Homo sapiens: one gene and its partner. The protein of the gene in region 1 purifies or fractionates together with the protein of each later gene. This does not show direct contact. Each region holds a gene or a part of one and is shown in the gene's direction. Other genes may lie near its edges.

Region 1 (3,500 bases):
TCTTCGATCCTATTTGAAGAGTAGGAAGGAGAAATTTGCCTTCCCACTGCTGGATCTGTTCAACTAAGAGGCTGGACAGTAGAAATTACTTCTCAGTCCAGCCTATTCTCTAGGGCTCTCAGAATAGAACCTTCTCCTAGGATACATTCTGTAGGTGTCTTTTAATTCTTCAGCAGCCTACTATCTTAGTGAGGGGGAGAAGGAATTAGGAAGGTTCAGGCTTTTTTTCCCCGGCAGGTTAGAAATTGAGAGTCTGAGGTTTCTCACTGGGTACTGTCCTCAGAGAGTATGATGAAGCTCCCTCTGATACGGTTTTATCTTATGCCATTTGACACACATCCTTGCCCACTCTCTTTACTCTTCTCACAATCCTTTCAGGTTCAGAGGACTTGACATTTTCAGGTGCCTGGCAACTGGTTCTTATCATACAGATAGCTCTGCATGTTGAGTTTGTACTCTTGTTTTCACATTTTCATTTGTTCTTCTAAGATCTCCTTTAGAAGAATGATCATAGTCAAAATAAAAGGTTCTTTTTGTTTTCCTGCTGTGTCTGTGACCTTATAAACTAGATTTTCCTCCAAAATACACATCTGGGTATATGAATATGAAGCCAGAAATGCACTTTTACTATTAACCAGTAAGCTAATGGGCTTCACCAAACATCTGCTGTGAGTTGGGCACTAGACATTTTGGAAGAAATATGTAATAAAATGAAAACATGATCTGCCACACAACCATGGAATGATAATATAAACCATTTTCAACTCCATATTAGTGAGTACAGAATAACACAGTACATGTTGAAGGGGATTTAGTATAAGCAGATGATTAAGGTCTTTTTTTTTTTTTTTTTTTTTTTTTTGAGGCGGAGTCTCGCTTTCCCGCCCAGGCTTGAGTGCAGTGGTGCGATCTCAGCTTACTGCAACCTCCACCTCCCAGGTTCAGCTCAGCCTCCCGAGTAGCTGGGATTACAGGTGTGTCCCACCAAGCCTGGCTAATTTTTTCTTTTTTTTTTTTTGAGACGGTCTTGCTCTCTTGCCCAGGCTGGAGTGCAGTGGCGTGATCTCAGCTCACTGCAACCTCCACCTCCCAGGTTCAAGCGATTCTCCTGCCTCAGCCTCCCAAGTATCTGAGATTACAGGCACCCGCCACCACAGCCGGCTAATTTTTGCATTTTTTAGTAGAGACAGAGTTTTGCCATGTTGGCAAAGCTGGTCTCGAACTCCTGACCTCAGGTGATCCGCCCGCCTCGGCCTCCCAAAGTGCTGGGATTACAGGCGTGAGCCACCGCGCCTGGCCGAAATTCATCTTTTATTAAAAGGAGGTTGCAGTGAGCCGAGATCGTGCCACTGCACTCCAGCCTGGGCAACATAGCCAGTCTCTGTCTCAAAAAAAAAAGCCAATTATTCATCCATGGGCTTCAGTTTCCCCATCTGCTTCATGGGGGAACTAATGCTTTCTTCTTCTTCTTTAAAAAAGGTAACATTGGCTGGGTATGGTTGCTCATGCCTGTAATCCCAGTACTTTGGGAGGTCTAGGCAGGTAGATCACTGAGGTAAGGAGTTCAAGACCAGCCTGGCCAACATGGTGAAAACCTGTCTCTACTAAAAATAAAAAAATTAGTTGGGTGTGTTGGCACATGCCTGTAATCCCAGCTACTCGGGAGGCTGAGGCAAGAGAATCGCTTGAACCCAAGAGGCGGAAGTTGCAGTGAGCCAATACCAGCCTGGGCTATAGAGGGAGACTCTGTCTCAAAAAAAAAAAAAAAAAAGAAACTAGTTTTCTGAGGATGAGTAAGCATACATTTGACCCCCCCCCTTATAACCTTATAACAGCTCTGTGAGGAAAGCTATTATTGCCATTTCATGGATGAAGAAATTAAAGTACATACAGGGAGTAAATAGCTGCCTAATATCACAGCCTTTAGTAAGGGTCAGTGCCAGATTCTGTACTCACTTTTCTGATTTCAAAGCCTGTGGTGCTAATTTGTACAACACTACCTTGCCCTTTGGCAAGTATTTCTTTTGCTGAATAGAGACGTCTCCCATTCCCTTCTGAAAGGAAGACTCTTGTCCATGGAGATTTGTAATTTAGTAGGAGGAGCAGGTGTGCTGAGACTCAGGTGCAAAGATTTAAAAGAAAACAGACATGCTATTTCCACCCTAGGAAGAACTTGGATACTGAACATGTTTATTCTTGACGAGCATCAGTGGAGAGAGAAATAACTTGTTGCAAAATCCCTCCCCAGGAGCTCATTCGTATATTAGAAAGATCTAAGTAGTGAAGTAATGAATCCCGAACACTGGTTGTGATTGCAGTCTCTTGCTTTGCACTGTTGTAAGAACACTAGAGAAATTTTCCAGCTTCAAAGCTGCTTCCTGGTGGAATATTCCACTGGGTTTGTGAAGATCTTTTAATTTTTCTTTTTAAGACTAATAATGCCTATCATTGTAGAAAAAGTGTACACACTCTACCAGATGTGTACATTTTTGTTTTAGATGACTGAGTAAATCTTTGTTCTCTGGGGGACAGAAAGCTAAAATGAACCTTTGTGAACTTTATTCTGAAAATGTTTGGACATCTGAGTTATTCTGTACCCTAGGGTGGAGGTTGCTGTAATGTCTCAGTAAGTTCCGGTCTTGGTATTTCTCCCATTTGGTAATAGCATCTGACTCTAAGGTCAATTGCATAAACTAATTTCAGGTAACTTTCCTAGTCCCTTTGAAGGGTAACAGAATCATCCCTCCTAATTTGATAGTCTAACTAAACCTTTTATAAAAGGCAGCCCCATCCACCTCCTAACATGCCTCATAGATGGTAGTAGCAGAGGGAGTGGGGTGGCATTAATGTGAGGATCAACAAAATTAAAATGACACTTCATAAGGGTTGGTTTTGTTTAGTGCTGGTTTTCTTAAGGTAAACGCCTAATATAGTATGATGGTTTGAACTTTTAGGTGCAGTGAAAGATGGGGACAGTTAGTCAATTTAAGGCACATTAGTTCCTCTCCAAGGACTGACAATTTGTTGTTGGTTTTTGTTTTGTTTTGTTTTTGAGGTGGAGTCTTGCTCTGTCTCCAGGCTGGAGTGCAGTGGTGCGATCTTGGCTCACCGCAACCACTGCCTCCCAGGTTTAAGCGATTCTTCTGCCTCAGACTCCCAAGTAACTGGTACTACAGGTGCGTGCCACCACATCCAGCTAAGTTTTGTATTTTTAGTAGAGACAGGGTTTCACCATGTTGGCCAGGATGGTCTCGATCTCTTGACCTCGTGATCCGCCTGCCTCGGCCTCTCAAAGTGCTGGGATTACAGGCGTGAGCCACTGTGCCCGGCCAGATTTTTTTATTGGTATTTTATTTGGTAGTTTAGAATAAATCTCTGGTGTTTGCTTAAAAAAGAGTATATAGAGATGATGGTAGGAATTGGCCATTTATTCATTTTTCAAATGTTTGAGCACCACTATGTGCTAAAATGATTTTTGCCCTCAGGATGCTTATATACAC
Region 2 (3,500 bases), on another chromosome or scaffold:
CTTACTGGTTACTAGTTATTAGCAAGCTGCCAAACATTCTCTTTCATAAGGAACAACAGCCACAATGCTTGCTTCTCACTGCTGGAAGGCATTTAATCCTCTTGAGAAACAGCAAGTGATTGGTGGAGTCCTGGCTCTGCTTCTGGTTTCCCAGGTTGATTATGCTAGTTTCACAACAATGCCATGTTTTCTTCTACCGAGAGCAGTATTGGTATCATTAAGATACCAAGAAATGCTGAGGTTTCATTGGTATTCTGTAACTTGTATTTTGCTGCTACGGGGAAGATAGCTGTTAGGTTTATCCTGTTGTTAGCTTTCAATTCTAAAGTGAATATGGGCTGGGTGCGGTGGCTCACGCCTGTAATCCCAGCACTTTGGGAGGCCGAGGCGGGCAGATCATGAGGTCAGGAGTTTGAGACCAGCCAGGCCAACATTGTGAAACCCCGTCTCTACTAAAAATACAAAAATTAGCTGTGCATGGTGGCGGGCACCTATAATCCCAGCAACTCGGGAGGCTGAGGCAAGAGAATTGCTGGAACCCAGGAGGCGGAGGTTGCAGTCAGCTGAGATCACACCACTGCACTCCAACCTGGGCAACAGAGCAAGACTCCGTGTCAAAAAAAAAAAATTGTTAAAGCCAATATGAACCCCCTCTGAACCTCACTCAGCTTTGAAAGTGCTCTTGCAAATCATCTACTCCAGTCCCCTTTACAACAAATAACCCCTGCGTGCACTTGTCTGTGTGCGTTCTCAAATGTGTTCTTGTCTGTCTGCTTTTTATTGATTTTCAATTTTGCCTTTTTCCACTGTTCTAATTTGCCTTTCTTTAAAAGTGTGAAGGAAGAAGTGTTCTGGAGGAACTACTTTTACCGCGTCTCCCTGATTAAGCAGTCAGCCCAGCTCACGGCCCTGGCTGCCCAACAGCAGGCCGCAGGGAAGGAGGAGAAGAGCAATGGCAGAGAGCAAGATTTGCCGCTGGCAGGTATATTCTGGGTAGAAGACAGCACTCTACAGAAAAAGTTGTTCTTAGAGACTCAAATGAGCTTGACCTCTTATACGTACCAGAAATGTCATTGCCTTAGGGAAAAATTCTTTTCTTCCCAGAGGAAATCTTCATTTTTCTCTTACTGCCTTCTCTCTGACCCAGCTCACACATGTCTTCCCCAAGCTTTCCTTTACTTTGCTTATCTCCTTTCTCATTCCTTGTTTTCGTTTTTGTTTTTTTTTTTAGACACGGGTCTCACTATGTTGCCCAGGCTGTCCTCAAACTCCTAGACTCAAGCGATCCTCCTGCCTCAGCTTCCCAAGTAGCTGGGACTTACAGGCATGAGCCACTGTGCCTGGCGAGTTTTTTTTTCGTTTTATTTCTCTCTCAAACATCCGTCATCTTCCCCCCCTCTCATTTTTGGCCCTTAACCATGTGATTCTTTATACTTCTGTCCTCTACCCTGATTCAGTCCGCCTCCTTTTTGTTTGTTTCAACCTGATGTTTCTCCAGTGTGTGTAGTCTGTAGAGCAGAACAAAGCTCCATTCCACTCCCAAGTTACAAGGATCTATCTAGTTCTGAGCTAGGCACTGATGAACATTGGACTCATTGTGACACTAACTTACCCCTGGTTGTGGGAATGTGTTTTATAATAAGGGCAGCTGTTTGAAATCTGTAATAATTAAAATAAGAAACACATTTTGTGTCATAGTTTAAATTCTTAGTGAGTACCTGCTGTGTATAGTAGGTACTCATTACAACTGGACATTTATCCCACAAGAAGCGGGGTGATTTAATTCACGGAATTTTAAATGATTAAGCAAAACAGCATGTCCTGAGGTACAGGTTATACAGAATACTAGGACAGGATCTGACACTGCTGTTAGTGTCAGGGAAATGGAGTGAAGTTGCTCTACACAGGAAAATTTGTCATTTTGTATATCAGTGTTAACATGCATCCCAATTGTCTGTTATTCTTTAGCATTTATGTTAATTTTGTTGGAAAATGCCATTTTGCCAAATACTGCCTTGTTTAACAAAATGGATTTATGACAGTATTCCATAAAGACTGCCTTTTTCTAGCACTCTTATCAGCAGGCAAACTTGATAAATAGCTTAATTCTCATTATTCTAAAAAAGTACAGAACTATTCTTCAATGAATTTTGCTAACACTGTAGTTAAAAATTATTTCCTGCTGGAAATTTTATGTAAGGATATGTATTGAATATGATGACATGTTAAAAATATCCCCAGGAGGCTGAGGCAGGAGGATCACTTGAGCCCAGAAGTTCGAGTCCAGCCTGGGCAACATAGTGACACCCCATGTCTAAAAATAAATAAATGGATAGGTAGATAGATAGATAAAAATATCCCCAAAGTAAGAGGTTGAGATGGTTTCACCATGGCTGTTTCTTATAACTTAAGAAAAGCTGAAAGCATAACATAAAAATTCATTTCTGAAAATTATTTAGTATCATAATACTTGTGGATATTTTACTGTGATTATAATATGTATTCAGAACTGAACCAAGCAATTATTGTCTCTCTTATTCTCACTTCTTAGAGGCAGTACGGCCCAAAACGCCACCCGTTGTAATCAAATCTCAGCTTAAAACTCAAGAGGTAATCCAGTTTTACATTGTACCTAGTAGTTGATATCTGGAAATAAAGTAACTGTGTTAACTCTTTCTGATACCATTTAAAACTATGTATGAATATGGGTTTGGAAGAAGCAGCATCTGGTACTTGAATAGTCAAGGAACTAGGGCTGAGACTTGAGGACGATTTACTGGCATATGTAATTCTAGATGTGTTCATCAGGGATTGGAGAGAAGGGTTGGAGTGATTCAAACTGTGAAGGAGAATAATAGCCTCAGGTGGTAACTCATGTAGTTACCAAGCAACTGCAAGTTAGAAGGTTGGAGAGCAGTGCTCATTGTCTTACAGCTCGCAGAGAAAAGAAATAAAAATAGCACGGCATTAAATTGTGAGACAATAGCAAACCAGAATAACACAAATGTCGCTTAGCAAACCATTTCAAGAGCTCATTTGTTGCATTTCAGGATGAGGAAGAAATTTCTACTAGCCCAGGTGTTTCTGAGTTTGTCAGTGATGCCTTCGATGCCTGTAACCTAAATCAGGAAGATCTAAGGAAAGAAATGGAGCAACTAGTGCTTGACAAAAAGCAAGAGGAGACAGCCGTACTGGAAGGTAAAAAACAAAACAAATCAAAGCAAAGAAACTATTCGTCTCCCTAATTCCAAAGCTAATTGTAGAAAATTGTTATTCTGAAGCCAGTGCACAAAAATGTGTTGTAAATTTTGCATCAAAATTGATTCTTGTCAGAGGCAATGGCTCACGCTTGTAATCCTAGCACTTTGGGAGGCCGAGGCGGGCAGATCACGAGGTCAGGAGATCGAGACCATCCTGGCTAACACGGTGAAACCCCGTCTCTACTAAAAATACAAAAAAAAATTAGCCGGGCCTGGTGGTGGGTGCCTGTAGTCCCAGCT

The links. Proteins that work in one complex are often made in the same cells at the same time.
Region 2: the proteins of ETF1 (region 1) and SYAP1 fractionate together in Homo sapiens (co-fractionation; one large-scale study listed by BioGRID). This does not show direct contact.

What each region holds. Positions count from the first base shown.
Region 1 is NC_000005.10:138,533,237-138,536,736, reverse strand, and holds part of ETF1 (eukaryotic peptide chain release factor subunit 1), read left to right. Parts: intron 1-3,500. UniProt on the Homo sapiens protein: Component of the eRF1-eRF3-GTP ternary complex, a ternary complex that mediates translation termination in response to the termination codons. The eRF1-eRF3-GTP complex binds to a stop codon in the ribosomal A-site.
Region 2 is NC_000023.11:16,754,112-16,757,611, forward strand, and holds part of SYAP1 (synapse-associated protein 1), read left to right. Parts: intron 1-833; coding exon 834-982; intron 983-2,551; coding exon 2,552-2,610; intron 2,611-3,050; coding exon 3,051-3,198; intron 3,199-3,500.